6 linked regions of the Homo sapiens genome follow. Changing the gene in region 1 together with any one later gene gives a genetic interaction. Each region holds a gene or a part of one and is shown on either strand. Other genes may lie near its edges. The genes, in order: CUL4A, MAN2A1, ARL5A, MTF2, SLC39A3 and DEPDC5.

The links.
Region 2: changes in CUL4A (region 1) and MAN2A1 together harm fitness more than expected from each alone (negative genetic interaction), as found in Homo sapiens cells (one large-scale study listed by BioGRID).
Region 3: changes in CUL4A (region 1) and ARL5A together harm fitness more than expected from each alone (negative genetic interaction), as found in Homo sapiens cells (one large-scale study listed by BioGRID).
Region 4: changes in CUL4A (region 1) and MTF2 together harm fitness more than expected from each alone (negative genetic interaction), as found in Homo sapiens cells (one large-scale study listed by BioGRID).
Region 5: changes in CUL4A (region 1) and SLC39A3 together harm fitness more than expected from each alone (negative genetic interaction), as found in Homo sapiens cells (one large-scale study listed by BioGRID).
Region 6: changes in CUL4A (region 1) and DEPDC5 together harm fitness more than expected from each alone (negative genetic interaction), as found in Homo sapiens cells (one large-scale study listed by BioGRID).

Annotation. Positions count from the first base shown.
Region 1 is NC_000013.11:113,215,418-113,220,982, forward strand, and holds part of CUL4A (cullin-4A), read left to right. Parts: intron 1-3,527; coding exon 3,528-3,631; intron 3,632-5,565. UniProt on the Homo sapiens protein: Core component of multiple cullin-RING-based E3 ubiquitin-protein ligase complexes which mediate the ubiquitination of target proteins. As a scaffold protein may contribute to catalysis through positioning of the substrate and the ubiquitin-conjugating enzyme.
Region 2 is NC_000005.10:109,694,400-109,699,964, forward strand, and holds part of MAN2A1 (alpha-mannosidase 2), read left to right. Parts: intron 1-5,565. UniProt on the Homo sapiens protein: Catalyzes the first committed step in the biosynthesis of complex N-glycans. It controls conversion of high mannose to complex N-glycans; the final hydrolytic step in the N-glycan maturation pathway.
Region 3 is NC_000002.12:151,821,256-151,826,820, reverse strand, and holds part of ARL5A (ADP-ribosylation factor-like protein 5A), read left to right. Parts: intron 1-5,565. UniProt on the Homo sapiens protein: Lacks ADP-ribosylation enhancing activity.
Region 4 is NC_000001.11:93,081,548-93,087,112, reverse strand, and holds part of MTF2 (metal-response element-binding transcription factor 2), read right to left. Parts: intron 1-5,565. UniProt on the Homo sapiens protein: Polycomb group (PcG) protein that specifically binds histone H3 trimethylated at 'Lys-36' (H3K36me3) and recruits the PRC2 complex, thus enhancing PRC2 H3K27me3 methylation activity.
Region 5 is NC_000019.10:2,731,241-2,735,802, reverse strand, and holds the end of SLC39A3 (zinc transporter ZIP3), read left to right. Parts: exon of another isoform or gene 1-1,277; intron 1,278-2,317; coding exon 2,318-3,052; 3' UTR 3,053-3,279; downstream 3,280-4,562. UniProt on the Homo sapiens protein: Transporter for the divalent cation Zn(2+). Mediates the influx of Zn(2+) into cells from extracellular space. Controls Zn(2+) accumulation into dentate gyrus granule cells in the hippocampus.
Region 6 is NC_000022.11:31,903,194-31,907,515, forward strand, and holds part of DEPDC5 (GATOR1 complex protein DEPDC5), read left to right. Parts: intron 1-2,790; coding exon 2,791-2,873; intron 2,874-3,011; coding exon 3,012-3,304; 3' UTR 3,305-4,322. UniProt on the Homo sapiens protein: As a component of the GATOR1 complex functions as an inhibitor of the amino acid-sensing branch of the mTORC1 pathway.

The sequences.
Region 1 (5,565 bases):
ATGTGGCTGTGGAGGTCGCTGTGTGACCATGGAGGTTACTGTGTGCCTATGGAGGTCGCTATGTGACTATGGAGGTTGTTGTGTGACTATGGAGGTCTCGTCCATGTGGCTGTGGAGGTCTCTTTGTGACTATGGAGGTCACGTCCCATGTGGCCGTGGAGGTCTCTGCGTGACTGTGGAGGTCACGTCCCGTGTGGCTGTGGAGATCTCTGTGTGACTATGGAGGTTTCATCCATGTGGCTCTGAAGGTCTCTGTGTGACTATGGAGGTCGCGTCCCATGTGGCTGTGGAGGTCGCTGTGTGGCTATGGAGGTCGCGTCCCGTGTGGCTGTAGAGGTCGCTGTGTGACTATGGAGGTCTCGTCTGTGTGGCTGTGGAGGTCGCTGTGTGACTATGGAGGTCGCGTCCCATGTGGCTGTGGAGGTCGCTGTGTGACTATGGAGGTCTCGTCCGTGTGGCTGTGGAGGTCGCGTGTGTGACTATGGAGGTCTCGTCCATGTGGCTGTGGCGGTCTCTGTGTGACTATGGAGGTCTCGTCTGTGTGGCTGTGGAGGTCTTTGGGTGACTATGGTGGTCACGTCCCATGGTCCCATGTGGCTGTGGAGGTCGTGTGTGACTATGGAGGTCTCGTCCACGTGGCTGTGGAGGTCTTTGTGTGACTATGGAGGTCACGTCCCATGTGGCTGTGGAGGTCGCTGTGTGACTATGGAGGTCTCATCTGTGTGGCTGTGGAGGTCTTTGTGTGACTATGGAGGTCACGTCCCATGTGGCTGTGGAGGTCTCTGTGTGACTATGGAGGTCATGTCCCACAGCTCCATGGCCTTCCTTGTTCTGTCTTCCACATCTGAGAGCAGGGATTGCCCTTATCCGCAGTGAGCATTTTGTTTAAGTAGCAGTGAGTTCACTCCAGGCAATGCTTTGACACTATAAATAGACGTGTATTTGACATTCACACACGTGTCTGTTGAGCTAATACAGACAATCATTTGATGAACCTGCTAGTTAGGAAGTAGCTGTGATGTGAGAAGAGACAGTGCTGGCTGTAGATATACACCAAATTTCCTCACTTGGCTGTTGATACAAGGAAAGCATCTTGATACTAATAGGAGTAGAATGCAAATGATACTTCTCTACCTCCGATCATTGGATTACATTCCTTTTCTCTGGGGTGAATCTTTAAAATGCTAATGGCCTGAGTGCACCAACATGAAGCACACAGTACCATCTGATTAGTTGCTTTATGCATCCAGAGAGGGTATTTCTAAATCTCAAAGTATGATTGAGTGTCAAAAATCCATTTGGGGGAGGGGCAACTCCTGTGTTGTGCTGCTTCTATAACAGCACAAAAAAGTCTTCCAGTATGTTCCTGCCAGCAAGGAGTTGGCAGGGCGGGGAGAAACAAAGGCTGTCGCCTTTCCAGTGATGAGTGCCTGTAATATGAAGCCGGGAGTCCTGACTCAGCACCTACAGCAAACCTGGGTTACCCAGGGCTTGCCACTTGTTTTGAGAGGTTCTTAAATTCTTAATTTTAAAAACAAAGTAAATTGCAGTATGACTCATATGAATAGTAAATGTGCACCAAATAGGACACATAGGAGGCAGAGTGGGTTATAAAATATTTAGTCATTTGCCACAACCAGGAAAAGATGGTTTTAAGGATATTGGTTCTTGGTCTAGGAATTAAAACATCCAGAAAATGGTCCTAAGTTACTGTTGATTTTTGCTGAAGAAAATACATTTTCTTCATGTGTTATATAAAAAACTTACTTTGTAATAATTATGTTTGTGGGATTCACTAATGTTTAACTACTGGAGCAAAACCTTTGTCGTAAAGTTCTCTTGGTTGTTTGAGGAGACAAAAGGATGGCAGATCTTTGACCAAATTATGAAGATATGGAATTCAAAGGGATGGAATTGAAGAGTTTGAGAAAGGAGTTAAAGTAAATACAGAATGTGGGTAGGAATTCCGTTTCTATAGTAAGACAAAATGTAGGGGGAAAGTTTGTATTTCTTTGTTATTATGCTGATAATAAGCTTGCTAGAAAACAGGATTATAATTAAAAACAGGATTATAATTATTCCACATCCTCTTTTGATCTTTGTAAATATGCATGTATTTTATATGGTAGTAATCACTGTATGTATTTAACTTTGGTTAATATGTAGCAGCTCTCCGATATTTAGTATTGGAATTATTAATACTTGTGTAAGTATTAGTAAAATGAATAGCTTTATAACTTTAATTTACCTTTTTTCCTAGGGGTATATTGTATCCTAATTAAATTCAGATTATTTATCTAAAGTGTTTTTATTCTGTATATCCCCACATTTTTCGAACCCCACATTGGTTCAAAACTTGTTAGAAAAACCATATTTCTGTTTATAATATTTCATATTGGAATTGAATGAGTTTAAGTTTTTGTACCTAAGATTGGAAAGGAAATTTTATTAGAACTGGTAAGAATGTACAAGCATTGTTTCTTTGAGGTGAGTAAAAATATTGTGAGAAAAAATTTTCTGCTTCAAAAAATGGTGTCAGCTGGGCACGGTGGCTCATGCCTGTAATCCCAGCACTGTGGGAGGCCGAGGCGGACAAATCACCTGAGGTCAGGCGTTTGAGACCGGCCTGGCCAACATGGCGAAACCCCTCCTCTACTGAAAATACAAAAATTAACCTGTGCGTGGTGGCAGGTGCCTATAATCCCAGCTACTCGGGAGGCTGAGGCAGGAGAATCGCTTGAACCCGGGAGGTGGAGGTTGCAGTGAGCCAAGATCCTGCCTTTGCACTCCAGCCTGGGTGACAGAGCAAGACTCCAACTCAAAAAAAAAAGATTTCTTCTTGTATTAGGGGTGTTCACAGAATAAAAAAGAAAGTTTATTAATTAAACAAACTGAAGTGAATTACACATCTAGCCTGCAGAAAAATAAATAGGAAACAATACAGTCTGGCCTGTGTCACCCAGAAAAAGCTCAGTTTGGATTGAATCACTGCCCTGGGGAGTGTGAGGGGAAGGCCCAGCCTGTTGTTCTCCTTCCTGATGGGAAGGTGGTCACTGAGGGAAAAGATTTTCTTGGTTCTCTAGCCCTGATTTCACTTTGTAATCATCAAGGTGAACTTAAACACAAACACACTCCAGTGACCCCCATCTCAGACTGAGGAATCGGAGCACCCGGAAACAGGCCTGTGAGGATCAAACCTGTTGAGAAGTCCCAAGTGACTGGGCACCATAGATGCTCAGGAGTGGTGCAGGCCAGCTGCCTGGGACCCGAGGTCCAGCAGGTGCAATGTGCCCACATTAACTGTTGTTACCTCTACCCCCATGCCAACTATGACTGGACTGCAGTGTTCCAACGAGAAGTGCCCTAAACTTAGCCATAATAAGTAATTTATTTGTAGATTCCTGAAGTACTGGGGTAGGGTGTGGGGTGCCTTTTTCTTATGATTACAGCTATGTTAACAATAGGGTTTTTTTATGAACCAATCTGTTGTTCATACTGAAGAATTGATGTAGCCCTTTTGTTTGCAGGCTGTGGAAAATCTCTGTTCTCACAAAGTCTCCCCAATGCTCTACAAGCAACTGCGTCAGGCCTGTGAAGACCACGTCCAGGCACAGATCCTTCCGTTTAGAGAATATCCTTTTTTTGGTTCATAAAGTTTCTATTCATTATCTAAGTCTTTTAAAACTGAACATTATTATGATAAAGAGCTAATGAGTATCCTTAATATTAAAACAACAGCTTTTAAAGTTCTCTTTTATTTGATAGGTTTGTAAGCGAAATTTACCATTTAAATTATTTTGCTGATTTGAATTAAAGGGAAACCGTGTTCATTTATTGGGTATGGTTGAAGTATTTAGGAAATGTTCTGAAAAATGTCTTCAAGTTTGAGTATCCTTTATTCTAATAAACACCATCTGCATTGGCTTTCTGTGATAGGCAACAAAGTCCCATCGACTTGGCGACTTATGGAGACACCCACTTATCAGCGCACAGTTGTGTCTGTCAGGAGGCCAGGCAGGATTCAGTGGATTCTATGCTCAGTCTCACGGGCAGAGTCAAGGTGTCAGCCAGGTTGGGGCCTCACCTGAGGTCTTTGCTAGCACGGGCAGGCAGTTGGCGGAAGCCAGTTCCTGTGGTAGTGGGACTGAGGGCCCTGCCTTCTGTCCCGTGTTGCTTGGTGTCACTCTCAGCTCCACATGCACAGGTCCTTGCCTCTCCTCTCACAGCACGACTCTTTTCTGCTTCTAGACCAGCAGGAGAATCTGCCTGTCTGACCTGCTGAGATAGGGCCTTATATGATGTAACCCGTAACCCAGTCAAGGAATGATGACCTTCGTATTCACAGCCTCGTTCACAGTTGCGTGTGAGGCATCCTCCACGTGGGGACAGGGCAGGAGCATCTCAGAATTCTGCTGCCACACCAGCTGTGACTCAGACGTCTACAGGGGAGTCTCTGGGCTCCTTGGCATCCTATAGAAAATCCTTTAATCTGGACTCAATCTCATTCCCCAGCCTCCTCCCAGTACTGTAGCTGTCCATGTGTCTCATTGGGTAGGAATTAGAAAGTAGAGTTTATAATTGCAGAAAATCTACTTGTGGCTGTACTTTTCTAGGCCTCCGTTTCTTCATGTGTAAAATTAGGTGGTTTGTGTTTGCTTATTTCTAAGTGTTCTTCTAGTTCAAGGAAACTTCTGCTCCCCCATCTCCCTGATCTTGGGAAACTAAACCATTCTGAGTTCATTGGAAGGGTCCTCAGGGAATCTGCAGCAGTTGGTGCTGCTGAAGTTGAAGCACGTGACAGGGAAGCTGAAATGCAGGGTGAGAGGTCTCTGTTTAGACAATCTCCACAGCACCCCGCACAGATGTGAGTGAAGTCGGTTCCAGCTCTGTTGTGCTGGCTTCTGTAAATACGCCTCTGCAGTGTTTTCCAGCAAAGCCCTTTCCTAAAGATCATGAGGTCGTTCAAGAGATCAGTGACCGCACACCACCTTTTGGAACCTGGCCAAAGTGCACCTTATCTCAGGAGGCGCCTGTGAGGGCGCACAGAAGCAGGCCCCGCCCCAGTGCCACGGCTCAGCAATGCGCTTCCAGGAACCTACGTTCCAGATGTTTCCATCCAAAAAGCGGCCTGACTCCTAGGCTTGGGGGAAGTCTTTAGCAGATGCCCAAGCCTTCTCCCAAAGACTTAGGCGTTTATGAGAGTCAGTAGGCGGTGATTGTTCCTACTCTAGTTGCTGTCCCAATTTACTTGAAAACGACTATCTGATTACCTGATCAAATGAATCTTTTGCCAGTTACTCCTACTCTGTGGGTTGACTAATGTGCCATCAGTTCACTCACTGCACAAGCACTTGCTTTCTACCTACTGCACTGGCACCGCAAAATGGAAAGTGACCCCCATGCCTGATTTCTACCCTCCAAGAAGTCGCAGGCTTATGGGAGAGGCAGGGGAATTACTGTATTTCCCTGGTGCAGTGGCAAAACTGTGATTACAAAAATTATCATTTGGTTCATTAAAGGCAAAAGAAAAAAACACTACCGTATTAAATGCCCTTATTAGTCATG
Region 2 (5,565 bases), on another chromosome or scaffold:
ATGGAATCACAGCTTACTGCAGTGGCCTTGAATTCTTGGGCCCAAGCCATTCTCCCACCTCAGCCTTCTGAGTAGCTGGGACTACAGGTGTGTATGCCACTGTGCCCAGCCAGTTTTAAAATTTTTATTTTGTGGAGACGGGGTCTTACTATGTTGACCAACTGGTTTCAAATTCTTGGCCTTAAGCTATTCTCCTGCCTCAGCCTTCCAAAGTGCTGGGATTATAGGTGTGATTCACTGCTCCCAGTTGCCTTTTGTGTTTTTTTTTTTTAACTTACTGTAATACACATACAGAAATGTGCTTACATACTTTACATCAGTAGTACTTAAGAGTCCAGCATAGTAGATGTTATTAATGAAAGTTGACTCATGGCAATACATATAACTAGGACTTTGATTCCCCAGTTTTTTTCTTGCTTTCATAAATCTGTAAATCTTACTTAAGAATGACATATAAGGAAAATATGATCTCCTTCCCCTTCCTTGAGTGCAGTCTATTTATAAACAATAGCACTTGGTGCTGGGGTTTGTTCACGTTTGTATGAGGGAGATTGTCTTATTTTCTGGGATATAATGCGGAGATCTGTGCTTTTTGGGAAGTGATGGAACGTTGATAGTGCATCCAGCATTTAGGAATGCAAGAACAAACATTAGAGCCTTTTGAGGATGGTGTCCTCTAACTCCTCTTCAGTCCAACAGCCCTGTGGGTCTCTTCCTGATCAGCATTTTTCACTAAGACCCAAACTTATTTCCTGTAAACCAACTGGGCCAGATACTCATGACTGTCTGTGGTCTGAAGATAGTAGTTTATGTTTTGTTTTTTGTTTTTTTTAAATTGAATTGGGTGTGTTGTTCCCAGATGAACACTGTTATCAGGGCCTAAACAAATATTTTTGTCAGGGAGATGTCACAATTGTATTATTGGAAGGGGATTTTCTCTCTTAGCTTTTAATTTGCATTAAGAGGTGTCTGGGCTGTGGGCAAAATAGTGGCTAAAATGACCACTTTTATTTGTTTTTGAGTCAGCTATTGCTTTTTGTGATAACTGAAAACTTTAGTCTTTTTTGAAGGACTGAAGTGTTGAGAGTTTCCTGGAATGAGTGGTTCACTAGCTGTTGCTGATCACCTGGTTTATTCTTAGCTTTTTTTGCATTCAGGAGTCTTAGTTTTCCCTTGTTCTCCAACTTCTGTAATCTTTAAGAAAATGAAAGGATATTTAGCAGCTCTGATGACCTGTATTTGCTGGATTGTAAAGGCCTTATTGCATTTTTTATCCCTTCTGTCTTGGTAAAAGTTCCTGATAGCAGCAGCTTTTATAAAAGTTTGAGCAGAACTAAGGCAAGGAGGAAGAACTCTAAAATAGTGATTTTTGCTTCTCAGTTGTTATTAGTAGGTTAATCAGGAGAGGAAGTAGGACATTTTAACTAAAATGGGTTTCTGTTTCAGTTATCAAGCCAAGCTGCTATTTTTAAGTTTGAAACCATTTTTAAATTCAGACAGGTTTGAGGATTAATTGTACTGAAATGGAGCTCACATCTAGTGCTTTAGTGAGTATAGCTAAATGTGCCTATAATAGGGAGGAAGTAAATCATTTGGTTTGATGAACTCTGTCACTTGAGGTCATATCATAGCTTTTCTGAAAGAGTGCCCTGTTTAAGGTAATTATATTTTATGCAGACAGGTGGATAGTAGGTATCTAGTATATATCTTTTTTTTTTTTGAGACGGAGTCTCACTATGTTGGCAGACTGGAGTGCAGTGGTGCAATCTCAGCTCACTGCAATCTCCACCTCCCGGGTTCAAGCGATTCTCCTGCCTCAGCCTCCCGAGTAGCTGGGATTACAGGCACAAGCCACCATGCCCAGCTAATTTTTGTATTTTTAGTAGAGACGGGGTTTCACCATGTTGGCCAGGATGGTCTCGATCTCCTGATCTCGTGATCTGCCCGCCTTGACCTCCCAACATGTTGGGATTACAGGCGTGAGCCTCTGCGCCTGGTTGGTATCTCTTAAATATCTTAATGTTAAATTTCTAAATCTAACATACTGTTTTCTAAAGAAGAGAAAGTACTTTAGTTTAAAACTGGACATACTCTACCATTTGCTGCCTCTATCCAGGCTTTGTAACCTCTTTGCTGTTGACATTTTGGGCCAGAGAATTCTTTCGTGTTAAGGGCTGTCCTGTGCGTTGTAGGGTGTCTAGCAGCATCCTTGCTGTCTACCCGATATCTGCCAACATCACTGTTCTCTCTCTGTACCCCTAGTTGTAGGAACCAACAATGTCTCCAGACACTGCTCTCAATATCCTCTGGGAGTGGGAATCATCCCTGTTGAAACTGTGTTGGCTGTGGCCTCTTCTTTATACCCAGTACATGTCGTTAGCACTTCTGTGTTTTAGGAAGGATTGATCAAAAGGCCGAAGCTCAAAAAGCCAATTAGCATTTTTTGATGGGTGAACTCTATTCTTTCTCAGGATGCCTGAAATTCACTTACACATTTAGGATTCTAGATTGTAGTATGTTACAAAAAATTTCAAGGATAGATTATGTTCATAGGTAAGTTGAAGGAAAAAATGGAAGATTCTTATAATGGAACGTAAAAAAATTCTTTTCCAATTGGACGTGTGTATTCTGAGAAAAACATTAGGGTCAGGTCATTGTAAATAGATCATCTTTTACTTTCTTCCAGCTGAATTACAGGTTGGCACTTATCCAGATTTATTCCTCTTAGCATAGGAAGATAAGATATATTGATTAATAAGGTAGTATAAAAATTGTCTGCAAAAATGTTTTGAAATGTCTGCAGTTTTCTCAGGCAGACTGTTTACTTTTCAGTGTATTGTTTTTATTTCTGTTAATTTTGATGATTCTGGTTACAACATTTTAAATATCTTCTTGAGATGAGAAAAAGCAGGGAAAGAAACTGGAAAATAAGGAGAGTGGATAGAGACTTTCCTCCTGATCATTTCATTTTGTCCTCTAAATAGCATTTTTTACGAAAGTGGGGTGGAGGTGGGAGGTTAGGGAAAGAATGAAGTTCTTGACAAATAATCTTCCTTCTTTTGTCTCCAAGGCCTCTGGTTTTGAACTCTGCTGAGTCAGCTAACTATGAGTGAAATCTGTCTGCCACCTGTCTTTATAGGGCCATGTGCTAAGAATGGTTTTTACATTTTTAAGTGGTTTAATAATGTTTCATGACATAGCCATGGTCATTCATCTACCAATTGTCTCTGACCACTTTCACACAACAGTGGCATAGTTTAGTAGTTAAGACAGAAACTGGCTCACAAAACCTAAAATATTTACTCTCTGGCCCTTTTCAGAGTTTGCCAATCCCTAGTTTAAACTATATTTCTCTATTGTTAATATTGGAGGCAAATAGTATTGTTAGATCTGTTAAAGTAGATGTGAGTTAATTAAAGACAAACAAAATTCTCGTAAATTGGTTATTAGATAAGCATTGGTCAAACTTTGTGTTTTTAGAGAGTGGTTTAAAACTTGTGTTATCTACATGTTTCATAGATTTCCAGGTATCCTTGGGGAACTTTGATGCTAGAGCATCGACATGCTTGATGAGTTTGTTTCTCTTCTTTCACCTGAAGGTTTTGCACTGTAGGACTGCTCTGGGAAGGAAGGTTCTGGGCCATGAACTAGGCAAAATTGATCCATAGCTTCAAGACTGAAAACCATGACTTTATGACTTTTTGGATCTGCTGTAATTCACAGATGGGCTTAATTCTGAGCCCAGTCTGATTGCTTGGGTTAGTTAGTCCTGAGAAGGGAGAGCTCAGGTATAGGTATCTTCTTCATAAGCTGTAAATAGAAGATGGAACTCAGCCGGTCTCTGGGATCCTGAGCGTTGCTCAGCTTGGAGGCAGGGTACTTTCAGGTTGTCAGCAGAGGTACTGGCCTGCTCTTCTGCTTATCAAAGAGCAGTTCTTGCTAATTTTCATCATTTTCTTCACTTTTAAAGATTATATGTCACTTTCTTTGCTGTGTTGCTGTGACACAGGCTAACACCCCATTTGTGTCCTCACAGATTTTAGTATCATCTTTAAATTGCAGTATACTGAGTCCGAACAAAATGGGGGTAATGCGTCTCATCGAGTAGTATTAAGGTTAGTGTTAAGTAGAGTTTTTTAAGTATTTGTTTTTTTGCATTTAAAAATGTATGCATTTGTGTATTTTTCACATGTAAATGGATTTACCACTGGCCTCCTTTGCAGGTGGTGCCTTTGGAAGTCCAGAGAAATTAAATGCTTTTTCCAAGAGCAGAGAAGACTCTAAATTTGACCCTGTCCTATGTTCTTGCTGGTGCACTTCATTGGCTTCAGTGAGGAGTCCGGAGAGCTGGGACTTTACCAATGATTTTTTTTTTCTTTTAAACATGTAAAAGGTATAAATGCACATAGAAATAATTCAAATGACATAGAAAGGTACACATTGACAATAGAATCCCTCTCCCTTTTTTCCCCATCTTTAGTCCACTCTTCTCTGAGTCCCACTTCTGACCATTTCTTTATGTTCCATGTGTGGTTCCTTCTTTAAATATATGCATATACCTCTGTTTTGATTTTTGTTTCAATTTTGAGCTATTGTTTCCCTTTATAAGAGATGAAGAATTTAACTCAATACCCCCTACTCTTCCCAGTTTTTAAAAAAGTTTTGTATTCAATTTCTGTTTGATATACATTAACAGCTTTCAATGATGTAATTGCATTTGTTTTCTTGATTCATCAACTTTAGGCCTAAAGTGACTCCCCACTCTGTCAGTCAAGGAATTTGGTACTTCTCAGCCTTCTCCCACTCAATTTCTCTTCCTTCTCATTTCTCACCCTCCCTCAGCCATCAGTTTTTTTACATCAACATACCTTATATCATCTACATTTCATTCTGTGACTGAATGTGTTATGTACTCTGACTATAGGTTGGTTACAAAAATTGAAAACCAGTAAACAAGGATACGGAATTTTAGGTAGGAGGAATAAGTTCAAGAGATCTATTGTACAACATACTGATTATAATTAATAATAAAGCATGTAGTTTTGAAAATTGCAAAGAGTAGATTTTAAGTGTTCTCACCACAAAAAAGAATAAATAAGTGATGTAATGCATATGTTAATTAGCTTGATTTAGCATTCTACAATGTATGCATTTTTCAAAATGATATACTTGATAAATATATACAATTTTTATTTGTCAGTTAGAGCTCGTTTGGAGGTTCCAGCAGGGGAGTGCAGCTCCTTGTATACCCTTGACCGAAGACCCGTCCTCCATCAGGGATGGTCATCCTCTACGACTGAGCATGCAGCTTCAGGAGGGGCTCACATAGAGTGGTGAGGGAGGAAGGGGACACCCGCCTAGCCAGCCAGATCAGCCGAATCAACCCTGGCGATCAATGGGGTGACAGATTTCGCAGCCAGATCGCCCTCACATCCTATTTGTCAGTTAAAGAAATAAAAAATGTTAAAAAAAAGAAAACCAGTACATAGTGTTTTCAATTTTATGATATTAAATACCATGCAGTATATGTCAGGTAGTTTGGCTTCATAAGAAGGAGGGATAATC
Region 3 (5,565 bases), on another chromosome or scaffold:
GGACTGGCTGTTAGTGTTGGGAGCAGGAGAGTGGGAAGCAGTCACTTGAACTCTCAGGTTTTCTGGTCTAGGTTTTCTCACCTAGAACACCAGGGATCTGTGGAGCTTCCAAATCTTGTAAACTTTATTTCTACATTGCAAATATTAAAACGTACATTGCTGTAAGACTGATGGTACTTATAGTAGATAAGATCTATTCTAGTTTTAACATCCATCATTTTGTATTATTTTTAGCAAAGCTAGTGTTTCATCTGCTGTGAGGTTTAGCAAGACTGTGAATTGAGCTCTAGTGCTGCCAGAAAAAGAGTTATCACCACTTTCTATTTTGAGTCAATGATAAAATTATTTGTTTCTGTAAGTTAAGAATAAATGAGAACTTTGCCAACAGCTCCTTGGAGTAGTAAATAATAAGGGTGTGTGCTCTGGTATCACTACAAATTGCTAATAGTAGTGTTTTTATAACCTGTATTTTGTGGTAATTTTTGACGGGACATTTATGGCAGTTTGGCGGAAATTAATAGAGAAATTAATGAAGTTAAGTTCTAGAAAATTAGATATGAATATTGTGAAAGTGTGAATAAATTATTTATTTTCTGCTAAACAGTGTGGCTGTCTTATCAATAGGGTCACTTTTCCGAATATCCACCATTTAATCTAATGCCAGATATTTGTTGGGTTTTGTTTTTGTTTTTGTTTTTTTGAGATGGAGTCTTGCTCTGTCACCAGGCTGGAGTGCAGTGGTGTGATCTTGGCCCACTGCAACCTGTGCCTCCTGGGTTCAAGCGATTCTCCTGCCTCAGCCTCCCGAGTGGCTGGACTACAGGTGCGTGCCACCACACCCAGCTAATTTTTGTATTTTTTGTAGAGATGGGGTTTCACCACGTTGGCCAGAATGGTCACCATCTCTTGACTTCGTGATCCACCCGCCTTGGGCTCCCAAAGTGCTGGGATTACAGGCCTGAGCCATGGTGCCCAGCAGGGTTGTTTTTTTTTTTTTCTGTATAGGACATATATAAGTTAGATATGTGTTGGATGCTCTTGTTTTACCTTCAGTGGATTCAGAATGCAATCTTACTTTCTTTTCATAGAAACTCTTGGAAAGTATGTTTCGGGAGATTACAGAATTTGCCATCTGATGAAACTTAAACTATGCAGTATCTCCTGTTTCTGAAACCCCTCGAGAACAGCTTTTTCAGTTAAAGCTCAGATTGAGTGCACAGTGAAAGCTATTTGTATACCGCTCGAACTAGAAAAACCAGAGGTCACATTTAGTTGATACTGAGATTCAGTAGAGTACAAACTTTATCCTAGATGCTGTCATTTAAATCATTTTATTTTATTTTATTTTATGTTTTAACAATCTTTTGAAGTAGTTATTTCCCCTGAAAAGGGAAAACTGAGGCTTAAGTGGAATGATTTTTTTTCCCCAGGCCATGCAACTGGTATATGCCAGAGCCAGGCAAGTTAAAACCCTGAAGGAATCTCTTAAAGAAGAGATTGACATCATTTTTCCCTCCCTCCTCCTCCCCCCATTAACTTTTTCAGTTGCTAATCTCTAAGTTGTCTTTAGAACTTCGAAAAGTTGCCATTAGTAACTTTTTTTTATAGAAGAGCTTGTGATCAGTGGTTTACTTGTTCTCAATAAACAAATATTTTAACACCTATTTAGTCCAGGAAGTGTTCTACATGGTGGGATAAGGGAACAAAACAGACAAATTCCACTGCCTTTATGGAGCTTTCATGTAGTGTTGGGAGACAGGAAATTAACTCACTTTGTCTCTACAAGTAAAATAATAGTGGTTAACACTTGTGCAAGGTTCACACAGGTTGTTTGATTTAATATTCACTTAGTTGATTTACTCTTTACAACAACCCTACAAGGTAGATATTATTCCCCTTATTTTACAGGGGTACGGAAACAGGTAACTTGCTTTAAGCACTATAGGTAAAAGTGATAGACCTGGATTTTAACCACGATTACGTAGTGCCGGAGTTATTTCTCCTACGCACACACACCTGGATTTTAACAAGATTATCTAGTGCCAGAGTTAGTTCTACACACACATGCACGCACGCACATTTGCACACAACTTCGTGTAAGAAGGACTTTGTATAAGAAGGACTCAGATAAAAAGAACTGACTGATGTGAACTATAAAAGAAGTTGTGGAATTTCCTCATTAATAGCCTTGTATTGCTCTCTTGGTTGGTTGCTAGAAAAGGAATTATAAGTATGAATGGGTGCAGGAGAAGCTGCCTGTGCTTCAGGAACCTGATGCTGAGGAAGCCACCTCTGTTTCTGGCTTATTATTGTTGTTATTATTATTATTATTATTATTATTAGGGAGTTTAAATGTGTAGAGAAGAGTACATATGGAAGCTGAGTAGCCAAGGGGTAGACTGTGTCTTAGCTTCTAATACAGATGCTCCTCAATTTGTGATAGTTGATAATTTGTGATAGATAGATAATTGAAAATACAGTAAGTAAAAAATGAGTTTAATATGCCAGACTTACTGAAAACCATGGCTTTAGCCTAGCTTGCTTTATACGTGCTCAGAACATTTATGTTAGTTTACAGGTTGGCAAAATCTAACCCAAAGCCTATTTTATAATAAAGGTTGAATATCTCGTGTAATTTATTGAATACTGTACTGAAAGTGAAAAACAGAATCTTTGCATGGGTACTCGAAGTATGGTTTCTACTGAATGTGTGTTGCTTTTACAACATCACAAGTCAGAGACCATTTGTAAACCCTTTTTGCATGCTCTGTGGAAGTGGAGCTAGGTCCTTTAAACGTTTTTCTTTTGCCACTGGGCAAAATGTTAAGTTTTGTCAGTAGGCTGCACTGGAGAGGCATTGTAGGAGGAAAGGGTGTTTGTACTTAGTTATAGTGTGCTTTCTTGACGGGCTCTGCTTGTAGCATGAACACCGTCTCCAAGGCCTGGCTCTTGTACTGCATAGTGGTCAGCAGCAGCCAACAGCTTCCCCTAGTACCCGTCTTAGTTGGTTTCATAATGGAAGGTCTCCAGTGAAATACCTCTCAATAAACAGTTTTCCTCAGCACCGAAGAGGGAGGATTTTTGGGCAGGTTCCACTGGCACCTCACCACAGCTACTTCTCTGCCATTCAGTGAGCCACTATCTGTGCCCTCCAACGAGATCTGCATCTTAAGTCTGGAGGGAGGGGGAGGACCTTTATCTCAACCCTAGGGATAGTGAGTGCTTCTTAAATTTGACATTCCCATAATCTTTTAGCCAATCTCTCATTACTCCAGTCCCCTGTAATATTTTTTTGATGTTGAACTTTCCAAGTTCAAATTATTGTGTGATTTCTGCCTCCTGATTGGATCTCTAATTTTGCCATGTGTAATCATTGCTTTTTTTTTTCAGCAACCTCATAGTGCAAAAGAAAATTTGGTTATTCCCCTGAAACTTAATTTACCATTACTGTAATAGCAAGTTTATTTTCAAACTTTCTTTTTATTGTTAAGACTTTTAAGTTTTAAAAATTGAACTTTTAATACAAAACGACTTAAGCAGATATCTCTCTCCTAACCTTTATATTTTCCAGATCTGATTTATTTATTCATGAAAAATATTAAGCTCATGCTTTATTCCAGGAGCTGTCCTATGGACTAAGAGAACTATAGTGAATATGACAAATGGAATTTTTTGCTCTGAGAGACATAGAATTAATAGGGCTTAGTGATAGTTCAGATATGAGGTAAAAATGATGAATCAAGAGGACTCTCCATTTATTTGCCCTGGTGTTTTTGTGTTTTCTGATGTTGTATGATTCACAGAGATAGTAATTCTCTACAATAACAATTATTATTATGCTTAATTTATTGACTGATGAGTTGGGGGAATATATATTAACTTTTAAAAACTGGCAATGAATGGAACTGGTAGACTGCCTGTGTCAAAAGGAAATGAAGGAAAAGGGAAACAAGAAGCAATTTTCATGACAAAACAGTAAAGTATTGATTGGTATGTTAAAGCCTAATTGGTAACTCACAGTTCCATCAAAGCATTAGAACAGTGCAGTTGTTGTGGCTTATTTGAGTAAATACAGGAATGCTGTGACATAGTCTAAAAGAAAAATCATACTAAGCAGTAAACTTCTGATGATTCTTGTGCATCAAAGAGTTGGAATGGCTGAAAGTTTTATTGCATTTGTCCACAATAACATTCTTGTAGTAGGCATATTGGGATTCTATGAAGTCTTTATTTCGAAGTGCATTATAGCACTTTTTGGCTACAAATTTACATTTTGTATAGATGCTTTTCCATCTTGCTAATGAAAGGAACAGGCTGTGGTGGTGAGAGTAAGGATGTTCAGAGGAAATTGATCTACTATTAAAAACTTTGTGACTAATCTGACCCTATTATTGAGATGACACGTTTGTCTTTGAGCCCATTGCACAGTTTGGTCTTAATTTTATAGTTCTCATTGTGACCCACATGCTATGTCTTAGATTTAGGAAGCTATTAAAAATGGTCATTGGTGGCCGGGACGCAGTGGCTCATGCCTGTAATCCCAGCACTTTGGGAGGCCAAGGCAGATGGATCACCTGAGGTCAGGAGTTCAAGACCAGCTTGGCCAACATGGCAAAACCCCTATCTCTACTAAAAATACAAAAATTAGGCCAGGCACAGTAAACTTCTGATGATTCACGTGCAGGTGGTTCACACCTGTAATCCCAGCACTTTGGCAGGCCGAGGCAGGTGGATCATGAGGTCAGGAGTTCAAGACCAGCCTGGCCAATATGGTGAAATCCTGTCTCTACTAAAAATACAAAAATTAGCTGGGCGTGGTGGTGCGCACCTGTAGTTCCAGCTACTCGGGAGGCTGAGGCAGGAGAATCCCTTGAACCTGGGAGGCAGAGGTTGCAGTGAGCCGAGATCATGCCATTGCACTCCAGCCTGGGCGACAGGGCGAGACTCCATCTCTAAATAAATAAATATAAATAAATTAAAAAATTAGCTGGGCATACGGCGAGACTCCGTCTCAAAAAAAAAAAAAAAAAAGAAAAAAAAAAAAAGAAAGCCGGGCATGGTAGTGCCTGCCTGTAGTCCCAGCTGCTTGAGAGGCTGAGGCAGGAGGAGAATCGTTTGAACCTGGGAGGTAGAGGTTTCATTGAGCCAAGCTCACACCACTGCACTCTAGCCTGGGCAACAGCGAGACTGCGTCTCAAAAAAGTCATTGGTGCTTTATTGTGAAAATACAAAAAAACTCAAATAGAGCTACGTCTTGGGAGGAAGCAACTAGAACTTTGTAATGAATGTAGTTTGTAGGTGTTTGGGTGGAGTAAGGAGGTAAAGATCCTCTGGATCATGGATTCTTCATTGGAATGGCCCTCCAGAGATCTCAGACCACATGACTACATGTGGTTTTTTTGGATATTTTCCAGGTTCTGCTTATGTTTGATTGGAGTTTCTTTCCTCCTTTTTGTTTTTGAAGTATTTTAACCATTTGGTAAGAATATGATATGTTCAAATATATTAGTTTGGTTTCCCTTGATTGACTTTAGAAATCTGCTTAGGTCTTAAGAGTTTGGGGGC
Region 4 (5,565 bases), on another chromosome or scaffold:
CCACACATGAAAAATTCCACATCTGACCTCGTAACAGGTTGTAGTCAAAACGCAGGTGGCACAACACAGTTTATTCAGTGTCCCGAACGAAAAAATAAGCTTTAGACTAAGCATACAACGTGTGTATGAAACATAAATGAATTTTGTGTTTAAACTTGGGTCTCATCCCCAAGACATCTCATTTGTATATGCAAATAAGCCTAAAATCCTAAAACCCTTCTGGTCCCAAGCATTTCAAATAAGGGATATTCAACCTGTAGCTGTCTGCCCAATTTTGAAACAACAAGAAAAAGTTCAAAGACAGCTGCCTGTAGTATACATTTTCAAAGCTCTGTATTTATCACATAGATAAATACAAAAGGACTTTATAAATAGTTCTTCAAACACCAACAAAACTGGGAAACTAACATAATTACTAGGCTGAAAAAGCTACAAGTCAAATATGATATATTAGTTTTCTTCTCCCACAGGAATATGTCTTTGCATCTCAAGATTCACCCGGGGCTGCCTATCAATTATTCACAAACCAAGATCTTTTCCACCCAAGGCATTCATACATATTGTACCTACTACCAAAATTGCCCTTCTTCCTCATCTTTTTTTTTTTTTTTTTTTTGAGACAGTCTCGCTCTGTCACCCAGGATGGAGTGCAGTGGTGCAATCTCAGCTCACTGCAGCCCCCGCCTCCTGGGTTCAAGTGAACCTCAGCCTCCTGAGTAGCTGAGATTACAGACATGTGCCACCACACCTGGCTAAATTTTTTGTATTTTTAGTAGAGACAGGGTTTCACTATGTTGGCCCAGCTGGTCTCAAACTCCTGGCCTCAAGCGATCCGCCCGCCTCAGCCTCTCAAAGTGCTAGGATTACAGGCGTGAGCCAATGCACCCGGCCTCCTCCTTCATTATTTACATAGTTGATCCTTCCTTCTAAGCATAGTCATGTGCTACACAGTAAAACTTTGGTCAACGACAGATTACATATACAGCAGTGGTCCCATAAGATTATAATGGAGCTGAAAAATTCATATTACCCAGTGACTTTGTAACCACTGTAATGCAATGCTTTACAATGTGTTTGCAGTGATGTTGGTATAAAACAAACCTACTGCACTGCCAGTAGCATAAAGTCTTGCACATATACTCATTATGTACAATACATAATACTGATAACAAACGACTGTGTTACTGGTTTATGTATATGCTATTTAGTTGTCCCTTGGTATCCACAAGGCACTGGTCACAGAACCTCCTGAGGATACCAAAATCCACAGATACTCAAGTTCTGCAGTGTGACCCATAGAACCTATGGATGCTAAAAGTTGGCCCTGGCTGGGCCCAAGTGGCATGCCTGTAATCCCAGCACCTAAGGAGGCCAAGGCAGGAGGATTGTTTGAGGCCAGGAGTTCAAGAATAGCATGGGCAACATACCAAGACCCCGTTTCTACAGAATATTTTAAAAATTAGCCAGGTGTGGTGGCATGCACTTGTAGTCCTAGCTACTCAGGAGGCTGAGGTGGAAGGATCACTTGAGCCCGGGAGTTTGAGGGTACAGTGAGCTATGATCACGCCACTGCACTCCAGCCTGGGCAACAGAGAGACCCTGTCTCTTTTAATGAAGAAAAAAAAAAAAAAAAAAAGGCCGGGTGCAGTGGCTCACGCCTGTAATCCCAGCACTTTGGGAAGCCACGAAGGGCGCATCATGAGGTCAGGAGATCGAGACCATCCTGGCCAACATGGTGAAACCCCGTCTCTACTAAAAAATACAAAAAAATTAGCCGGGCATGGTGGTGGGCATCTGTAGTCCCAGCTATTCATGAGGCTGAGGCAGGAGAATGACATGAACCTGGGAGGCGGAGCTTGCACTGAGCCGAGATGGTGCCACTGCACTCCAGCCTGGACTCCGTTTCAAAAAAAAAAAAAGAAAGAAAGAAAAGAAAAAAGGTAATGTAATTAGGATCCATAACTATACTATAATGACAATGCTTTGAAATTTTAAAAGTATTTTTAGTACTAGATAAGCACTTCACAAACTACCCTTCTATCTCCCTGATTATGGGAGAATTCTTTAACTACTATCAAAAAATCCTCAGAACTGAGAATCAACAGAGGGGCTCAAGTACTGATAAGAACTTTAAATTAAATGAGGATAGGAGAAAGTGATGCTTTATCTTATCAAGGAAAATGGTTTACTTTGTTTCTATATGTTCAAAGTATTTCTTTTAATACTTACATTTTTAAAGACAGGGCCTTGCTCTGTCACCCAGGCTGGAGTGCAGTGGCACATCATAGCTCTCATAGTTCACTGAAGTCTCAAACTCCTAAGCTCAAGCAATCCTCCTACCCAATCCTCCTGCCTCAGCCTCCTGAGTAGCTGGGACCACCGTGCCTGGCTCAGGAATAAATTTAACAGAAGAAGTTCGAGAATTGTACAATGAAAACTACATAATATCAGAGAAAGAAATTAAATAAGATCTATATAACTGGAAAGGCATCCCATGTTCATAGATGTTAATAATATTAAAATGGCAAGTCTTCCCAAATCAATCTATAGATTCAATACAATACCTACCAAAATCCCAGCTGCGTTTTTTTGCACAGACTCACAGATTGATCCTAAAATTTACATGGAAAAGTGAAAGGAACCCAGAATAGCCAAATTGTTTTTTAAAAAGAAAAAAACTTGAGGACTCACAACGTCCCAATTTCAAAACTTACTATGAAGTAATGGTAATTAAAATATTATGGTACAGTCCTAAGTACAGACACATAAATCAATGGAATAAAACTGGGATCCAAGAACAAACTTTTACATGTATGGTTAATTTATTTTTGACAAGATTGTCAAACACAAGTCAATGAGGAAAGAATTAGTTTTTTTTAACAAATGGTACTAGAAAACTGGTATCCACATGCAAAACACTGAAGTTGGACCCCTACCTCACACCATATATAAAAAATTGACTCAAAATAGATGACGGACCTAAATGTAAAAGCTAAAACTATAAAGCTCTTTAGATACGGCATCAAAAGCATAAGCAAAAAAAAAAGGAATAAATTGAACTTTATCAAAATTAAGAATATTTGTGCTTAAAAGGACACCATCAGGAAAGTGAAAAGATAATGCACAGGATGGGGGAAGAAAAGTCTGCAAATCATATCTGATAACAGGCTTGTATCCAAGAATAAAAAGACAGTCCCATTTTTTAAATGAGCAAAAGACTTAAATAGACAGTTCTCCAAAGAAGGTATACAAATGGCCAACAAGTATGTGGAAAGATCCTCAATATAATTAGCCATAAGTGAAATGCAAATCAAAACCACAATGAAATACCAATTCAAACCCTAGGATGGTTATAATCAAAAGATAGACAATAATAAGTATCAGTGAGGATGTGGATAAACTGGTGAGATAATCACTCACCAGATAATCGCTAGTGAGCTTGTAGAATGGCACAGCCTCTTTGAAAAACAGTTTGGCAGTTCCTCAAAACACTAATCCGAGTTATCATCTGACCCAGTAATTTCACTCCTAGATATGTGTACCCAAGAGAAATGAAAACATGTTCACCCAAACCCTATACATGAATGATCACTGCAGCATTACTTACAATAGTCAAAATGTGGGAACAACCCAAATGTCCATCAACTGATGACTAGACAAACAAAAAAAGGTATATTCATATAATGAAATATTATTTGACCCTAAAAAGATATGAAGTGACTATAAATGCTACAACATGGCTGTTCCATGAAAACATTAACGATATAGTTTGGATTTTGTGTGCCCGCCCAAATATTCCGTCAAATTGTAACCCCCAACATTGGAGGAGGCCCCTGGTGGGAAATGACTAGATCATGCAGGCAGATTTTCCCCCCTGCTGTTCTCATGATACTGAGTTCTCTGGTTGTTTAAAAGCATGTGGAGCCGCCCCCATCTCTAATCCTCCTGCTGTGGCCACTTCAAGGGGGCCACTTCAACAGGAAGTTTCCTGAGGCCTCCCCAGCCATGCTTCCTGTATGGCCTGTGGAACCGTAAGCCGATCAAAATTATTTTCTTTATAAATTACCCAGTCTCAGTTATTTCTTCATAGCAGTACAAGAATGGACTAATATAGTCATGCTAAGTGAAGGAAGCCAGACATAAAAGGCCACATATTGTACTACTCCATTTACATGAAATGTCCAGAACAGGCAAATTTATAGACACAGAAGGTAGATTAGTGGTTGCCAGAGGATAGTGGATAGGTGAAGGGGACTGACTGTTAATGGATTAAGATTTTCTTTTCTTTTTGGGATGATGAAAATATTCTGAAATTAGGTATGGTGATGGCTGCACAACTTTGTGAGTATACTAAAAAAAATCACTGAACTGTACACCTTCAAAGAATGCATGTGAATTATGTACATATAACTATAGTATATAAATTATATCTCAATAAAACTTATTAACAACTGTACAGTTAAGATTTGTGCATTTCAATATATGTAAACTTCACCTAAAAATAAACCTTTAAAAAATAATAAAAACAATGGGCTGGGCACAGTGGCTCAATCCCAACACTTTAGGAGGCCACAGCAGGAGGACTGCTTGAGGCCAAAAGTTCATGACCAGCCTGGGCAACACAGTAAGATCCCGTCTCCACAAAAAAAATTAAAAATTTAAAAATTAGCCAGGTGTGGTGGTGTGCACCTGTAGTCCTAACTACTCGGCAGGCTAAGGCAGGAGGATCACTTCCGCCCAAGAGTCTGAGGCAGCAGCAAGTTATGATAGCACCACTTCACTCCAGCCTGGGTGACAGAGCAAGACCTTGTCTCTTTTTACAGAAAAAAAAAAAAAAAAGAATGGTTACATAAAAGCTCACTATTCTATTCTGCTCACTTTGTATTATGTTTGAAATATTCCTTAAGTTTTTTCTACCAAAGTGTAAAAACAAAGTAATTTTTTTAAACAACAAAACGTTCCTAATATCCATTTTTTGTTGTTTTTTGACACAGAAGCAGAATCTTATATTTTAAAAAGACTAGAGAGGTCACTATCTTTCATTATTCTATTGCAATGTTATATGAAAACAGAAATATGACAGAAGACATGGTATGTGGTAAAAATGAATACTTCATCTTAAATGTACAAAAAGAATCTGAACTTCCTCAGTTCTCAGGCATTTCCTCATCCTTGGATTCCTGTGGTTTCCATGGTTAATGAATGTAACAATTCCTCAATACATGGATGCAATAACCCCTACTACTGTGCTGTCCAATACAGTAGCACTGCTACATATGGCCATTTAAATTTTAGTTTTAATGAATTAAATTATAAATTCACTTCTTAGTCTCACTAGTTACATTTCTAGAGTTCAATACCCACATGCAGCTAGTGGCTACTGTACTGGATACAGCAGATATAGAACACTGCCATCACTGGAGAAATTTCTACTAGATAGCACTACTCTAACATATAAGAAATATCCACAGGGAAACTTTTACATTCCAATTTAGGATGGTTATACTGGATTTCACAGCAATAAACAAATTTTCCTGAAGAACAGGGAAAACAAAGTACAAAAAT
Region 5 (4,562 bases), on another chromosome or scaffold:
CTGAGCTTCCAGCCCCTGCTCCGCACGCCCCATGCTCTTCCCTCCCCTCGAGTGTGGGTAGGGCTGGGACTGCCGTGCGTGTCACTCCTGCCATTATGTCAGAATCCCAGCAGAGGGGATGTTGCAGCTGTGATGACCGCCCCAGATCGGTTAGCGCTGAGTTCATCAAAAGGGAGGGGGTGGGCCTGGCCTAATCAGGTGAGCCACTCACCCTCCTGCTGGCCTTGGAGAAGCAAAAAGCCAGGGTGTGCCAGGAGAAGGGCATGAAGCGAGGACCCGAGGGCAGCCTCTCGGTGCCAAGAGCCATCCCCGCCAACAGCCAGCCAGGACACGGGGCCTCAGTCCACAGCCACCAGGAGGTGGACTCTTCCGACCTCCAGTGAGCTTGGAAGAGGACCCTGGGTGTCAGTGAGATCTCAGCCCTGATGACACCCTGCGAGACCTGGAGCGTAGGGCCCAGCTAGCCCGCACCTGGATTTCCACCGTTCAGAGCCGAGACACCGCATTCCTGCTGTTCCGCGTGGCTGAGTCTGCATTCGTTCGTTACGCGGTGTGTGAAGACTGACATCTGCACTGCGAGGATGGAGATCTTGGTCATCTCTGACATCTCCTGCATCGCAGAGGCCACTGCCAGCCCCCCTTTTCCCCCATGGTCATGGTGTCACCCCCGTCACCCTCTGACTGCAGGCCTGGGCGACTGCGGGGAGCTTGCTCTTCCCTCCCCCTCATCACAGTGGCCTTCTCATGGCACCCAAACCTTTCCCGCCGTTCTCCTGTCCTCGGGCTGGTCAGGCGGATGAGGTCCCTACTCCCGAGCCCCCAGCCTCACCCACTGCAGGGCCAGGCTCTCAGTCACCCCTGGAAAATGGTGCCTGGTTCACAGCTCCCGTGCATCTGCCTCATCTCTCCTGATCAACGTCTGTCTCTTGGGAGTAGCTAGAGTTCCTCATGAGCTTGTCCTCAAGCGAGGCATGCATGAGGCCTCCAGCCGGTGGTCAGTGAGGGAGTTAAGTGGCTTCTCCGTGGAAACACAGCCTTCTGCTGCAGCAGAGGCTCACCCAGCGTGAACTGCCCCCAGGGAACACTGGGCGATGCCTGGGGACATTGTGGTTGTCACGATGGGGGGTGCTCCTGGCCTGGAGTGGGTGGAGGCCAGAGACACTGCTCAGCAGCACCCTGCAGTGCCCAGGACGGCCCCGTCCCAGAGAACAATCCAGCCCCGAATGTCAGCACCTTCCCCCTACCCGAGTTGTGAAAATAAAAAATGTTTCCAGACATTGCCAGGTGTCCACACGGGCAGAATCGCCCTGGTTGAGAACCACTGTGTGCGCGTGCTTGTGTGTGCACCTGCGTGTGCGCGTGTGTGTGCGTGCGTGTGTGCACATATGCGTGTGTGTGTGTGTGTGTGCACGTGCGCAGGTTGTAATGAAGTCTCCGCTGGGAAGGAAGCAGGGAAGCAGGCATTGTTGAGTGTCGATTGTGTTGTGATTTTCCTCCACTTTGGTCTCGAGGTCTCTCTGGAGGGTGGCTGTGAACTCTGGCCCTGCCGTGACGAGGCTCCAGGGAGCTGTTGTGGGCGTTTACAGCCTGCCTTTCATGAGACATTTCATCCTGGCGCATAGCCTAATGCCTGCGTGTCCGCCCCGTGAGCAGCTGTCCCTCCCATAGGAGTGTGTACCTCTTGCAGACGCCCTGCGGCTCCCGTCTGACCCACGTCTAGTTTCTCCCCACCAAAGTCTCCCCTCGCTAGGAGAGCCCTGACCAGGAGGAGAGTCGGGCCCAGGCATGTCGGTCAGGGAAGCAGAGAGGAGGCCCCGCGGCAGAACACGCAAGGCCAGTGCAGCTCTTTATGTGTTTATTTTGAGCCGGAGTCTCCCTCTGTCGCCCAGGCTGGAGTGCAGTGGCACGATCTCGTCTCACTGCAACCTCTGCCTCCTGGGTTCAAGCCATTCTCCTGCCTCAGCCTCCTGAGTAGCTGGGATTACAGGTGCTCGCCACCATGCCCAGCTAATTTTTGTATTTTTAGTAGAAACATGTTTCCCCATATTGGCCAGGCTGGTCTCGAACTCCTGGGCTCAAGCAATCCGCCAGCCTCAGTCTCCCAAAATGCTGGGGTCACAGGCATGAGCCACCGCGCTTGGCTGGTGGTGGTGGTGTTAATTCATCACAGGCGAGCCCTTCCTCTCCCACTTGTTTTAACCTCTGTGTGAATCGGGGATTTCTGGACTTTGCTTTGAACGGTGACATCTGGCCAGCCCTGTCGCCGCCACCCCTGAGCGTGGGTCTCTCTCTCTCTCTCGGGTGTCCCCGGCTGCAGCTCCAGAAGGTCCTGAGCCTCGGCCACATCAGCACCGACTACCCGCTGGCCGAAACCATCCTCCTGCTGGGCTTCTTCATGACCGTCTTCCTGGAGCAGCTGATCCTGACCTTCCGCAAGGAGAAGCCGTCCTTCATCGACCTGGAGACCTTCAACGCCGGATCGGACGTGGGCAGCGACTCGGAGTATGAGAGCCCCTTCATGGGGGGCGCGCGGGGCCACGCGCTGTACGTGGAGCCCCACGGCCACGGCCCCAGCCTGAGCGTGCAGGGCCTCTCGCGCGCCAGCCCCGTGCGCCTGCTCAGCCTGGCCTTCGCGCTGTCGGCCCACTCGGTCTTTGAGGGCCTGGCCCTGGGCCTGCAGGAGGAGGGGGAGAAAGTGGTGAGCCTGTTCGTGGGGGTGGCCGTCCACGAGACACTGGTGGCCGTGGCCCTGGGCATCAGCATGGCCCGGAGTGCCATGCCCCTGCGGGACGCGGCCAAGCTGGCGGTCACCGTAAGCGCCATGATCCCCCTGGGCATCGGCCTGGGCCTGGGCATTGAGAGCGCCCAGGGCGTGCCGGGCAGCGTGGCGTCCGTGCTGCTGCAGGGCCTGGCGGGCGGCACCTTCCTCTTCATCACCTTCCTGGAGATCCTGGCCAAGGAGCTGGAGGAGAAGAGTGACCGTCTGCTCAAGGTCCTCTTCCTGGTGCTGGGCTACACCGTCCTGGCCGGGATGGTCTTCCTCAAGTGGTGAGCGGCCTCGCCATTGTCCCTGCCGCCGGAGCCCGCCGGGAGCCCCGGGCCGGACACAGGCCGCGTCCCCCGGCCGCGCGTCCCCCAAGAGCGAGCACTGTGGCCCTGGGCCACCACCTGTGCACAAGGGGCCTCCCGGGACCAGGCTGTGCCCCCGATCCTACACCCTGAGCCTCAGAGCACTGCTACTTTTTAAAATACTTCTTTCTCTTAAAAGTCTTTACCAAAGCTGTGTGGCCATGTCAACCTCGGGCCGTGGGGTGTGGCAACCCACGGGCGGGAGGGCCAGGACCTGGGTCCCGGTGAGATCGGTCAGGACCCTCCTCTCCCTGCCGCACACCCCCAGCCTGTGAATAAGGACGGGAGCATTTGGCTGCTGTGGCCAGAGTGAGGGCCGCGCCGCCTGTGCCTCAGGAGCCAGCTGGGGGCCCTGAGGCCCCAACGTCTACCCTACTCTGTTGCCAGGATCTCGCCGCCCGAGCCCCGAGTGTCTTGAGGCTTATTAGAGGTTGGAGTCACTGCGATGGGACAGCCGGGCTCCGTCCCTCCTGCCACACAAGGCTGTACCCCCTGTGAGTGGGCCATGTACCCTCAGGAGTGCCCTCTCCTTTTCCCTTTGCTGGGTGGCTCCTGGAGCGGGGACCCCTGGGCCAGGACCCCCGGGCCAGGTGAGTGTCACAGTTTCCTGAGACTCACGAGCAGGGCCAGGAGGCAGCTTAAAGATCAGTCCTCAGCTCTGCTTACACACACCGGGGTCTCCAGAGGAAGATGGACCCCACTAGCGGTGGGGCAGGGGCCCCGCGGTGCGATCCCTCCCGTGGACACAGGGACGCTGCTCCCGAGAGGGCAGGAGCACGGGGGACGAGCAGCCGGGCGTGGGCTGGGGCAGCCCTGGGCTCCTGGCTCTGTGGCAACCTCCGGAAGGCCTGAGCCGTCGTCCCGGCAACCCTGCCGGGTCTGGGGAGGTGAGAGCTGGGGAGGGACGCCTTTCCTCGGGGATTTTGCTCTGCCTGGCTCGAAGCCGCTGTGGCGCCGCGGAAGGGAGCCGGGCATGCCCGCCTGGGCTGGGTTTTTCCTTGATCTGACCTGGAGCCCCGGACCCCATCTCTGGGCCTTGGCGTCTTCCAGCCCCATCAGGGCTGTGAGGGCCTCTGGCTGTCCCCACCTCCCACCTCGTCACTCATCTTTGAGTGCCAGGCCCCAGGTACCCTTCTCCCATCCCGTGCCCTGCCTCGCCACCACGCCTCCCTACACCTACCCACAAGGCTGACTGGGGGGGGCTGCACGGAGAGGTGCCCATCTGGCCTGTGGGCTTGGGCCTGGCGGGGCCTCCTATCCATCAGTCCATCAATCTAGTCAGATGGGGAGCTCCAGGGCCAGCCAGTGACTGCTCTGTGGGGTGTCCCGGCCGGTGGCCCTGCTGCAGCCAGCTCAGCTCCCAGGTGCCAGTCACAGGAAGGGACGACCTCGAGAGGGCGGTGGCTGCCTGGAGCATTGCCATGGGGGTCCCA
Region 6 (4,322 bases), on another chromosome or scaffold:
CCCCCTCCACCTTCCACACCTAACCCCCCTCCACCTTCCACACCTAACCCCCCTCCACCTTCCACACCTAAACCCCCCTACGTTCCACACCTAAACCCCCCCACCTTCCACACGTAAACCCCCTCCACCTTCCACACGTAAACCCCCGCCTTCCACACCTATTCCCCCCACCTTCCACACCTAAACCCCCCCACCTTCCACACCTAAATCCCCCTACCTTCCACACCTAACCCCCCCAACTTTCCACACCTAAACCCCCCACCTTCCACACCTAAACCCCCTCACCTTCCACACCTAAACTCCCCCACCTTCCTCACCTAAACCCTTCCACCTTCCACACCTACCCTCCCCCCATCTTCCACACCTACCCTCCCCCCACCTTCCACACCTAAACCCCCCCTTATACACGTAAACTCCCTCACCTTCCACACCTAAACCCCCCACCTTCCACACCTAAAGCCCCCCACCTTCCACAACTAAACCCCTCCACCTTCCACACCTAAGCCCCCCCACCTTCCACACCTAACCTCTCCCACCTTTCACACTTAAACCTCTCCCCTGTTCCACACCTGTCAGAATCTTCCTCCAGGGATTCCCAAATGTTTCCTCTCTGAATTCCTCTTTCCCTTTCTTTCAAAACACTCTGAATGTATTCCAGTGACTTGGGGGCCCTTGGAGGGCAGGGGTATGCTTTTTCCTATTTGTGTTTCCTTCTATAATGCCTAGCAAGGTGCCTGCCTAGAGTAGTTTCATATGTAGCTTTTGCATAGGGTGGAGCTTTAAGTGCAACTGTGGCTCTAAATGACACATCAGCCCACCCATAAGGTCCATCTCAGAAAGAGCTAAAAAAGTGTCCATCTTCCTCAGCCCCTAGGCTGTGACCTACAGCTCCTCCTTCATCTTCCTCAGCCCCTAGGCTGTGACCTACAGCTCCTCCTTCATCTTCCTCAGCCCCTAGGCTGTGACCTACCGCTCCTCCTTCATCTTCCTCAGCCCCTAGGCTGTGACCTACAGCTCCTCCTTCATCTTCCTTGGGGCAGGTGGAGATGATTATATCCCCTCCCCTGCCCTTACTGCGTTTCTGTCTTGCATTCTCCCTGAGTGGACAGTCAGGTGGCCAGGAACCATGTGGTTAAATTGCCTTTTTGTTCTTTCCTGGTGACCTAAGGAAGAAATGAGGTAAAAAAAAATTACTCTGGTAAAAAAAAATCAGGCTGATCCATGCTGAGGAAATCAGTAGCCTTAATTAGAAAGTAGAGAGAAAGCAGGCTGGGTGTGGTGGCTCACGCCTGTAATCCCAGCAGTTTGGGAGGCCGAAGCAGGCGGATCACCTGAGGTCAGCAGTTCAAGACCAGCCTGGCCAAAATGGTGAAACCCCGTCTCTACTAAAAATACAAAAATTAACTGGTCATGGTGGCGCGTGCCTGTAATCCTAGCTACTTGGGAGGCTGGAAGCACAAGAATTGCTTGAACCCGGGAGGTGGAGGTTGCGGTGAGCCAAGATTGTACCACTGCAGTCCAGCCTGGATGACAGAGCAAGAGTAGAGAGGATTTTGCAAAGGCAAAATCCAGAGCCAATCCTCATCATATAATCAGCCTGTAGACAGGGAGCTTACAGTGCATAGTAGCCTACCCATTTAGTTTGCATATTTGACTTCATGTATTCTTTGGTAAAAAATTATGGAATGCAGATTATGTAGAGGATACAACACAGCACCTCCCCAAGGAACTCAGTCCAGGAAAGAAGACAGGCATTTTCCCTTCTTTAGTTCTGCCTACATCACTGTCTCCATTATATAAACCCCTCAGACTTAGAGGGCAGGAGCCACATCTGTTACCACGTCCTTTACAGCTCTTAGCAGGTAGAACTGTAATAAATGTGCCTTATGGAAATAGAAAAACCAGGAATAGAACAAGCCATAGATGAAAAATGGCTCCTCCTGCCCATTTCCAGAGCACAGGGAAGCAGAGAGCCCCAGCTTGGCGTTCCTCTTTTTTTTTCTTTTTGAGATGGAGTCTCGCCCTGTCACCCAGGCTGGAGTGCAATGGCATGATCTTAGCTCACTGCAGCCTCCGCCTCCCGGATTCAAGTGATTCTCCTGGCTAATTCCAGAACAATCCTGGCTAATACAAAAATTAGCCAGGCATGGTGGCACATGCCTGTAATCCCAGCTACTCAGGAGACTGAGGCGGAGAATCACTTGAACCCAGGAGGCAGAGGTTGCAGTGAGCCGAGATCATGCCATTGCACTCCAGTCTGGGCAACAGTGCGAGATTCCCTCTCACCAAAAAAAAAGATAAGGACCTTCCCTGGAGGAATGGATAGCCTCGAGTATGCGGGTGGGTATGTGTGGCCTGTCAAGACATGAGGTAGATTCCAGTGAGAGGCCCAGGATGGGATGGGGGAGAACGCTCAGTGGGAAGGTCTGCTGGGATGGGTAGGGAACATGGTAGGAGGGACGGGCTGTCTGAGCAGAGATGAAGGCTGGATGAAGAGTGCAGCCGGTGGGAAGGCTTTCTTTCACTATGGTGGTAGTGACATGGTGGACCACGGAGATGACGGGCTGCTGGGTGTGAGGAGGTCTGGTAAGCCATGGTGTTGGAAGAGGTAGAGGTCAGAAAGTGGTGAGGGTGAGGACAAAAATAAGCAGCCTGCATGTGCAATCTGGAAAGAGATCTTTCCAGATCTCTGTGTCTCAGGCTGTCCGAGAGTCCTATCAGCTACATTCTCTTCCCTTGCCCCTTTAACTAAGGAGGCGCTGATTAGCATGTCTTCCTGTCCTTCCCTAGGTTTGGGTTTGTACAAGATAAATATTCTGCCTCTGCTTTTAACTTCCCTGCTGAGAACAAGCCTCAGTATATCCACGTTACAGGTGAGGAGCTACGGGCAGAGTTGGGCAGGTGGGTCCACATCCCTTTCCTTGCACCAAGCCTATGGCTGCAGAACCACCTCAGCAGGCTCCAGGAGCCCTCCTGGTGGCTGCCACACAGGCGCTCCCCTTTCTCTTCAGGAACAGTGTTTCTGCAGCTGCCCTACTCCAAGCGCAAGTTCTCAGGGCAGCAGCGGCGGCGGCGGAACTCCACCAGCTCCACCAACCAGAACATGTTCTGCGAGGAGCGGGTCGGCTACAACTGGGCCTACAACACCATGCTCACCAAAACATGGCGCTCCAGCGCCACAGGGGATGAAAAGTTTGCTGATCGGCTGCTGAAGGACTTCACGGACTTCTGCATCAACCGTGACAACCGGCTGGTCACGTTCTGGACAAGTTGCCTGGAGAAGATGCATGCCAGTGCCCCGTGAGGCCAGGCTGCACCTGTGCTGGGGGAAGGTGGGTGAGCCACTGCCCTCAAACCCGGGGCGGAGGATTCCAGGCAGGCTCTAGGAGTCAGGTGTCCGTTTGCTGCTATCAGTGAGTGGGGGCCATTGTTTTTTGTTTGTTTGTTTGTTTGTTTGTTTGTTTTTGGCCCCCACGACAAGTCTTCTACTCTAGAAGAAAGACTTTGGAAGCAGCTGCTGCTGCTGCCACCACTCCTGTCAGCAAGTGCTCAGAGCAGGTGGGAGGCACAGATTGTCCGTGGGAGGGCTCCAGTGTCTGGGAAGAGGGCAGGCGGCCCCCATGAATGTCCTCGGAAGGGGGTGGCTCCTGGTAGCATCCTTTTCCTTCACCATCTATGGGATATTAGGGGCAGAATCTGCCACTTCTTGCCCAGGAGTGTGCACAGATGTAAGATAATTTTGTGAAATAATGTACCATAGACTCTCACCAACTGTATATACCTGTACATATCAGAAGCAAATAAAGAGCTCCACGTGCATCATTTCTTTCCCCACCCAGTTCCCCACAGAAGCAGTCCCATCCTGGGCTGGGCAGTTGTGCCAGGTGGCCGGGGTCATGGCAGTCAATGAAGTGGTCACAGATGGTGAGAGGGCTTCAGAATTCACTGGCTTAGAGTCTGGCTGGGAGTTTATTGAGAGATTTCTTTCATAGGCCACTGGGCAGGAGCAAGGATGGTTCCAGTGAGGACAGTGAGCAGGCAGTATAACTTACAAGGTAACTGCAGGCTCATGCTGTCAGAATGAATCTTGCTAAATGGGTGAGCTCAGCTCTGGGACGCAGATATGATGGCATTCTGAAAAAAATCAAAGGAAACATTTTGTAGACTCTAACTTAGGTTTTTTTTGTTGTTGTTTTTTTTGTTGTTTTTTTTGACACAGTTTTCACTCTTGTTGCCCAGGCTGGAGTGCAATGGTGTGATCTCAGCTCACTACAACCTCTGCCTCCTGGGTTCAAGCGATTCTCCTGTCTCGGCCTCCCGAG